Regions from separate parts of the Homo sapiens genome. Here region 1 is linked to region 2. The links come from fine-mapping of genetic effects on gene expression. A gene starts in region 2. The other region holds a variant in brackets. All regions are shown on one strand. Distances are between the middles of the regions. Region 1 overlaps TXLNG (taxilin gamma). Region 2 holds the start of TXLNG (taxilin gamma).

The links. PIP is the estimated chance that this variant, and not a neighbour inherited with it, causes the effect.
Region 1: its variant is the best candidate, but not a certain one, in a credible set for the expression of TXLNG in whole blood (TOPMed, PIP 0.72).

The regions. Positions count from the first base shown.
Region 1 is chrX:16,812,691-16,817,084 of GRCh38, forward strand. The region is part of intron 1 of TXLNG (taxilin gamma); the gene reads left to right. Among named protein-coding and RNA genes, the nearest start is that of TXLNG, 28 kb to the left of the region's middle. The variant G/A (reference allele first, on the strand shown) is at 2,116.
Region 2 is chrX:16,784,466-16,788,859 of GRCh38, forward strand. TXLNG (taxilin gamma) reads left to right here and starts at 2,001. Exons shown (of 10, transcript NM_018360.3): 1 at 2,001-2,124. The coding sequence starts at 2,023. It overlaps LOC124905250 (a long non-coding RNA gene), which reads right to left and starts at 1,801. Exons shown (of 2, transcript XR_007068398.1): 1 at 1,605-1,801; 2 at 1,195-1,498. RefSeq lists enhancers at 1,397-1,596, 1,568-2,300, 4,343-4,394 and a silencer at 2,347-2,786.

The sequences.
Region 1 (4,394 bases), 28 kb after region 2:
CTTTTTTTTTTTTTTTTTTTTTTTTTTTTGAGGTGGAGTTTCGCTCTTATGCCCAGGCTGGAGTACAATGGTGTGATCTCGGCTCACCACAACCTCTGCCTCGCAGGTTCTAGTGATTCTCCTGCCTCAGCCTCCCTAGTAGCTAGGATTACAGGCTTGCATCACCACGCCTGGCTAATTTTGTATTTTTAGTAGAGGCGGTGTTTCTCCATGTTGATCAGGCTAGTCTCGAACTCCTGACCTCAGGTGATCTGCCCACCTCAACCTCCCAAACTGCTGGGATTACAGGTATGAGCTACTGCGCCAGTCCTATTCCTTTCTTCCAAGTTGAGGTAACCATGAAGTCATCTGAAAAATATATCTGGTAAGGGACTTGTAGCTAGTTACATAAAGAACTCTTACAGTCCAACGATAAAATAACAACCCAATTAAACATGGGCAAAAGATCTGAAAAACATTCTTCAAAGAAGGTATACAAATGGCCAATAGGCACGTGAAAAGATGTTCAATATTGTTAGTCATTAGGGAAATGCAAATCAAAAACACAGTGAGGTACCATCACACTCAGTAGGATGGCTATAAAAAAATAATAATAACAAGTGTTGCTGAGGATGTGGAGAAATTGGAACCCCCATACACTTCTAGTGGGAATTTTAAATGGTACCAGTGAGCTGCGCGTGGTGGCTCACGCCTGTAATCCTAGTGCCCTGGGAGACTGAAGCAAGAGGATTGCTTGAGCCCAGAAGTTTTGAGACCAGCCTGGGCAACATAGCGAGACTCTCCCTCTACAAAATTAAAAAAAAAAAAATGAGCCTGGCATAGTGGCACATACCTGTAATCTCAGCACTTTGGGAGGCTGAGGCGAGAAGATGCTTTGAGCCCAGGAGGTTGAGGCTGCAGTAAGCTTGCATTGTGCAGTCTGGGCAACAAAGCGAGACCTCGTCTCCAAAAAAAAAAAAAAAAAGTACAGTTGCTTGGGAAAATAGTCTTACAGTTCCTCAAAAGGTTCAACATAGAGTGGTCATATAGCAATTCCACTCCTAGGACTGTACCCTGGAGAAGTGTCCACACAAAAATGAATGCATTAATGTTCATAGCAGAAATAGTCATAATTGGCCGGGCGCCGTGGCTCACGCCTGTAATCCCAGCACTTTGGGAGGCCGAGGTGGTCGGATCATAAGGTCAGGAGATCGAGACCATCCTGGCTAACACGGTGAAACCCCGTCTCTACTAAAAACACAAAAAATTAGCTGGGCGTGGTGGCGGGCACCTGTAGTCCCAGCTACTCGGGAGGCTGAGGCAGGAGAATGGCGTGAACCCGGGAGATGGAGATTGCAGTGAGCCAAGATCACGCCACTGCACTCCAGCCTGGGCGACAGAGCGAGACTCCATCTCAAAAAAAATAAAAAGAAATAGTCATAATAGCCAAAAATTGGAAATAACCCACATGTCCATCTGATGAATGGATAAATACAGTGTAGCCAAAAATTGGAAATAACCCACATGTCCATCTGATGAATGGATAAATACAATGTAGTCTCTCTGTATAAGGGATATTATTCAGCTACATGCATGGAATACTGATACATGCTATAACATGGAGGAATCTTGAAAATTTGCCACATGCAAATAGGCAGACTCAGCCCGGTGTGGTGGTTCACACCTGTAAACCCAGCACTTTGGGAGGCCAAGGTAGGTGGATCACCTAAGGTCAGGAGTTCGTGACCAGCCTGGCCAACATGGTGAAACCCTGTCTCTACTAAAAATACAAAAAATTAGCCGGGCATGGTTGCGGGTGCCCGTAATCCCAGCTACTTGGGAGGCTGAGGCAGGAGAATCGCTTGAACCCGGGAGGCGGAGGTTGCAGTGAGCGGAGACCGTGCCATTGCACTCCAGCCTGGGTGACAGAGTGAGACTCCATCTCAAAAGAAAAAATAGGCAGACTCAAAAGGCCACATATTGTATAGCTCCATTTATATGAAGTGTGTCTAGAATAGCCAAATCCATAGAGGCAGCAACTAGATTAGTGGCCTGGTGCTGAAGGTTATAGAAGCATTAAGGGTTGATAGCTAAGGAGAACTGGGTTTCATTTTCAGGTTATGAAAGTGTTGCAAA[G/A]TTGACTGTGGTAATGTTTGCACAACTTTGTGAATGCAGTAAAATTAGTGAACTGTACACTTTAAGTTAGGGAATTGTATGGTATGTGAATTATATCACAATAAAGGTGTTACAAAATAAATCGCTAATGGAACTGAAAAACTACAAATGAACCAATCTCATTCCTCAAGTAGCCTCAGGGTTAGGACAGGCCTCAGGGTTTTCTTGGTGAAAATTATTTATGCTTCCCCTTTTTTCTACGAATTTCATGCTCACTGTATTTTTGATACGGCTTGACACCATATTTTCTGGGATTGTGTGGGTTTTATTATCATTAAGTGTCTGAGAAATTCTGTGTTAGAGATAAGCAGTCTTCTATTCTCGTTTGTTTGTTTTTGTTGTTGTTGTTGAGATGGAGTCTTGCTCTGTCGCCCAGGCTGGAGTGCAATGGCGTGATCTAGGCTCACGGCAACCTCCGCCTCCCAGGTTCAAGCAATTCTCCTGCCTCAGCCTCCCGAGTAGCTGGGATTACAGGAATGCACCACCACGCCCAGTTAAATTTGTATTTTTAGTAGAGACGGGACTTCACCATGTTGATCAGGCTGGTCTCAAACTCCTGACCTCAGGTGATCCGCCTGCCTCAGCCTCCCAAAGTGCTGGGATTACAGGCGTGAGCCACCGCGACCGGCCTGTAGTGCCATTCTTATACCTAATGGTTTTCAGGGAATAGATTTGAAACTATTATTATTTTTTTTGAGACGGAGTCTCGCTCTGTCACCCAGGCTGGAGTACAGTGGTGCGATCTCAGCTCACTGCAACCTCCGCTTCCCGGGTTCAAGCGATTCTCCTGCCCCAGCCTCCCGAGTAGCTGGGATTACAGGCATGCTCCACCACGCCTGGCTAATTTTTGTATTTTTAGTAGAGGTGGGGTTTCACCACGTTGGTCAGGCTCGTCTTGAACTCCTAACCTTGTGATCTGCCCGTCTCGTCTCGGTCTCCCAAAGTGCTGGGATTACAGGCGTGAGCCACTGCGCCTGTCCGAAATTTTTTTTTTTTAATTGGGGAAAATGGTATTGATAGTACTCACTTTTTCCCTTTCTATTGCTTTTGTGTAAAGGGTCTCTTTATATATCTATGCGCCCAATTAGTACATGACATTTCAATATTTGATTAGAGGCGAAACTAGTAGTTACATGTGAAATGTAGCATTGAATTATCACTTTGCATCTGTTCTGTTAATAATAATACTGCTATAGTATGTTATTTGGGTATATTAATGATTTTTTTTTCTTTTTTTTTTGAGATGGAGTCTCGCTTTGTCACCCAGGCTGGAGTGCAGTGGCGCGATATCGGCTCAGTACAACCTCTGCCCAGCTAATTTTTGTATTTTTAGTAGAGACGGGGTTTCACCATGTTGGCCAGGCTGGTCTTGAACTCCTGACCTCAAGTGATTTGCCCACCTCAGCCTCCCAAAGTGCTGGGATTACAGGCATGAGCCACCTTGCCCGGCCTATTAACAATTTTAAGAAGTTTCTACAGTAGTGAAATCTTACAAATGATTTTTCCTAAAACTTGATTGTGAATCCTCTCCCACCCCAAGAGACGAAGTCTCACTATATTGCCCAGGCTGTCCTCAAACTTGCCTTAGCCCCCAAATAGCTAGGACTACAAGCATGCCCCACGATGCGTGCCATTGTGAATTTTTGAAAAACTTTATGGGTTACGCTTGAGAAACATTGCTCTATAGAATATGATACATATGGAAGTGAATTTTTAAAATCTTTTCAAATAACTTAAGAGTTTCAGTATTTGTAAGTTTTTTCTATCTGAATTAGGCTTAGAGTGTGGCATCAAACCATAACTCTGAAATAGATAACCCATTTCCCCTTAATGTGTTAATTTTTTTTAAGATGTCAAAGTATTACATGCACATTATTTTAAAAGTGTCATGAAAAGCAGCATATCTTTAATCTCTCTTCTTAGAGGAAAATATTTGTTTTGGTTCCTCTTACTTCTTGAATAATGTATAAATTGCAACTTTTAAAATAAACTTTACTGAAATACATAAATTGAGAAAAGTATACAAATCATAAATGTTAGGCTTAATGAATTTTCACAAAGTGAATGTGTCACCTCATCTAGACCAAGAAATAGAACACTACAAGCACCCCAGGAGGCCCCACCCCCAATGGTAACCGCTATCCTGATTTCTAGCACCATTTATTAGCTTGCCTTGTTTTTGAACTTTATACATAAATGATTTCCTATAGTAGATACTCTTCTAGCACCTTTTTCACAAC
Region 2 (4,394 bases):
GCTAGAGTGCAATGGCGTGATCCCGGCTTACTGCAACCTCCGCCTCCCGGGTTCAAGCGATTCTCCTGCCTCAGCCTCCCTAGTAGCTGGGATTGCAGGCACGTGTCACCACGCCTGGCTAATTCTATTTTTAGCACAGACCGGGTTTCACCACGTTGGTCAGGCTGGTCTTGAACTTCTGACCTCAGGTGATCCGCCCGCCTCGGCCTCCCAAAGTGCCGGGGTTACAGGCGTGAGCCACCGTGGCCGGCCTCTTTCCTTAATAAAGATAACTTTATTGATTTTTTTCATTCCATACATACTTAAACAATATAGAAAATCATGAAATTTGAAACCAGCCTGGGCAACATAATGCCCCATCTCTAAAAAAAAATTTTTTTTTGAGGAATAACTTACTTTTGTGTGTGTGTGTGTGATGGAGTTTCTCCTCACCCAGGCTGGAGTGTTCAATGGCACGATCTTGGCTCACTGCAACCTCTGCTGCCCGGGTTCAAGCGATTCTCCTGTCTCAGATCCCAAATAGCTGGAATTACAGAAGCCCACCACCGGCTGGGGGCGGTTGCTCACACCTGTAATCCCAGCACTTTGGGAGGCCGAGGAGGGCAGATCAGGGGGTCAGAAGTTCAAGACCAGCCTGGCCAACATGGTGAAACCCCTCTCTCTACTAAAAATACAAAAATTAGCCCAGCGTGGTGGCACGTGCCTGCAATCCCAGCTACTCGGGAGGCTGAGGCAGGAGAATTGCTTGAACCTGGGAGGCGGAGGTTGCAGTGAGCTGAGATCGTGCCACTGCACTCCAGCTTTGGGTGACAGCAAGACTCCGTCTTGGGAAAACAAAAACAAAGAAAAAAGAAAAGCCCACCACCACCACCATGCCCGGCTAATTTTTGTATTTTTAGTAGAGACGGAGTTTCACTGTGTTGGCCAGGCTGGTCTGGAACTCCTGACCTTGTGATCCACCCGCCTCGGTCCCCCAAGGTGTTGGCATTACAGGCGTGAGCCACCGCGCCCGGCCTCATAATGAATTATTTAAGACAATATATCAGGATTTCATGATGGTCTGTGCCTTTCAGAAGCTCGGCCATTGGAGATCTGGTTCCATCAGATGGAAATAGGGAATATTCCTGAGGAAATCTCCCCTCTCCCCCCCAACATCATATCAATAAAAAAAAAAATTCGGTTCAGCAAACCGAGTTTGTTGAAAAAATTTAGGTAATGAAACGAGTAAATGGGGTGGGAGAAAGCAGGATACATTCAACATGAATGAAGTGCCAAGTAAGTGTGCAGAAGCCGGGGCGGTTCAACCAAGGTGAATAGAATGCGGCACCTATCCCGCGGGAGCTCGGGACAAGTAAACCGTGGTAACAACTCTGGTGGAGGGGCAGGGCTCGGGGCAGGTGCCCGAGCACGAAACTTCAAATTCTAAGAGCCAATACACCTTCCGTCTTGAAAGTCGTGAAGTATTTTCCCTTATCCCCAAATCATTCGCGCCCAATTCCTAAGAACGGCAACAAAAACAAAAACACAAGAATGTGTCGCCGATCGTGCTCCTTCTCAAACACGGGGATATTTCTAAACTTTCCGCGAAAGATCATAACGAGTACCTTCCTATAGCCAGACATCGCCCCCAGAAACCGCAAGTCCCACTAGGATGCACACGAAGCACACTGGGTGCAGCACTCTCCCCTTTTCAGAACGCCGCCTTATGTCCCAATCCCGATCCGAGCCTGCGAGCTGTGGCCGCACGCCCTGCTGGGACTTGTAGTCCACTCCCGAGTCCCATTCCCGATCCGCGCAGACTCACACGGCCTCTATCTGCCCTTCGGTCTTGCTGAAGCCCAGCCCAGTATTCAATGCTCCCCATCCCCATCTCGCTCCGTCCCCTCGGGGGCCAACCTCCTCCGGTCACGTGGGAAGTCTCACATGCGGCGATTGGTCGTGGGGGCTCGGGGGCGGGGCGAAAGGCCCTGCGAGATTCTGTGCCCCTTGTCGGGCCGCTTGTTTGGCTGCTGCCGTCACCTCATGGCGACGCGGGTAGAGGAGGCAGCGCGGGGAAGAGGCGGCGGCGCCGAAGAGGCGACTGAGGCCGGACGGGGCGGACGGCGACGCAGCCCGCGGCAGAAGGTCAGTCAGGGGGACGCCCTCGTTGTTGTCGGGCCCGGGGGATGTTTGGGCTCCCTTTTTCAGGGTCCACCTCTTCTCTCTCCCTGGTTACCTATAGCCACGGGACGAACATCCGGTCTTCTTCCCTCCCGGGGGTGACGACAGTGGGAGCAGGTGGGGGGGGGTGGGACCGCGATGGATGGGGTGGGAAGGGACGACGGTTGGGGTTTGGCGGCGCGCGGCGGGGAAGCCGGGAGGGAGGGCAGGGGGCGCACGCGGTTCTAAGGGAGAAGGGGTGCGAGGCGGGGGTGCGCCAGGTGTGACAGCCACGTGCGGCCAGCACCGCGGGGATCCGGGCGCCAGGCGTTCCTTCTCCCAGTCACCGCCGTCACCGTGCTCCCGGCGCTGAGCGCCGCCGTCCGGGGGCTCGCTGGGGTCGTGGGCTCGCCCTCCTGGCGTCGGGCAGGTGCGCAGGGCGCGCTGCGGGGTGCCCCCGGGCTGCTCAGGCTAGGCTGTTGCGCAGTAAGATAACCGCGCGGGAGCCGGGGTGTGCTTGGCCCCCCTTCCCCCGCCCCCCTGCGCTCCCCGCCACTGCGCGGGCGGGCAGGCGAGCGGGTGAGTGTCGCAGGGCCGGTGCGAGCGGGACGCTCGGCCCCCGGGACCTAGACCCCGGGGCTCCGAGGGCTTGGCTGCACGTGGGGCCGGGGATGGATGGGGAGGCGATGCTGGAGGACCTCGGTCCTGCAGAGTTGGGATATCGCATGATAGCTGGTCCTCCCAGTCCTATTTACCACCCTCCTCTTTTTTCCCCTCTTTTTTTTCTTTCATTTATTATTTTTTTAATTTGATGAGTGGAAACTTGAATGCCTTCCCGACCCTGGCCTTGGGTCTTTCTTAATCTGGGAAACAGGCCGGACTGTTCCCCTTGCCTTACTTGACTCACGTCAAGGAGTTTTCAGTCCCTCCCTAGATACAGGAAAATTGAGACCTCTTTCAGAACGGGACAATTCCACTTGTTCTGGAGCTCAGTGGGTGGAGTTTGAAAAAGATTGCACAACGAACGGGGTACAGGGTTTTCGGGGCCCTGGAATGGATAATTGCGGGGACTGAGACTGGGAAGGTGGGAACCCCATCTCTTTTTTTCCTTGCAGGTGAACATACTGAAACGTTCGACTTGTTGGATATCTTGCTTGATCACCGAGGGCTATTTAATATTACTTAATTATGTATTTGAACACTCTTAACTCCTGTATGAAATTACGAAATAATATTTTTCTAATGCAATTCATAAACTTCAAATGGGAGAACAAAGGTCCAGTTTACGTCTGAGCAGAGTGTTAAGAATTAGCTTTTTGGGGCCTGTTTCTAAGGTCAGGTATTTTCATGTTTCTGCATGACAGTGTTACTACTTCTCAATTACCTCTCTTTCTTTCTCTCCCTCTCTTTGTATTCTAAAAGAAAGATCCAGTGCTTGCAGGACTGAAAAAGAAGCTGTGGACCAATGTCCTGTAAGGGATTCAACACCATCACTTTGGACACTTCACTTATTCCCTAAGGGTGGAGTGCCAATCTCAGTGTTTGATTTCGTAGGTTCCCCAGGGGAGGAGGACTCTGATAAAAAGCCACTGCAATTGAGGATATAAGTTCCCTTTTATGACACTGGGATAAGGACAAAAAGTCGTTGAATTAGGAACTGAGGTTTAATCAACTAGCATTTAAAATAACCAAGATAGGAGGTAATGACCCTTTGAGGTGCAGAGCTCTGGTTAACAGCTGGATAGGAATAGTCATGTGTGTGTCTACTCATTTTTGTTTATGTACCTCATACTCCATTCTTCTTTGCTTATGCTCTTCTGAGCATCTTTTTCTTTTTGATTTCTAACTGACAGTGACGGCATTCAAATACATGGTAAAATATTAATCTTTGAATTTTCATTTAACAAATTGGGTGAATTATCTTGTGTTTGCAAGAATCATTTTTAAGCCAGCTATGGTGGCATGCACCTGTAGTACCACCTAGTCAGGAGACTGAAGCAGGAGGCTAGCCTGGGCCGCAGAGTGAGACCCTGTCTCTTAAAAAAACAAACAAACTTGTTGTGTTTTTTTTTTTTTTTTTTGAGTCAGAGTCTTGCTCTGTTACCCAGGCTGCAGTGCAGTGATGCAATCTTGGCTCACTGCATCTTCCACCTCGTGGGTTCCAGCGATTCTCGTGCCTCAGCCTCCTGAGTAGCTGGGATTACAGATGTGTGCTACCACGCCCAGCTAATTTTTATATTTTTAGTAGAAACAGG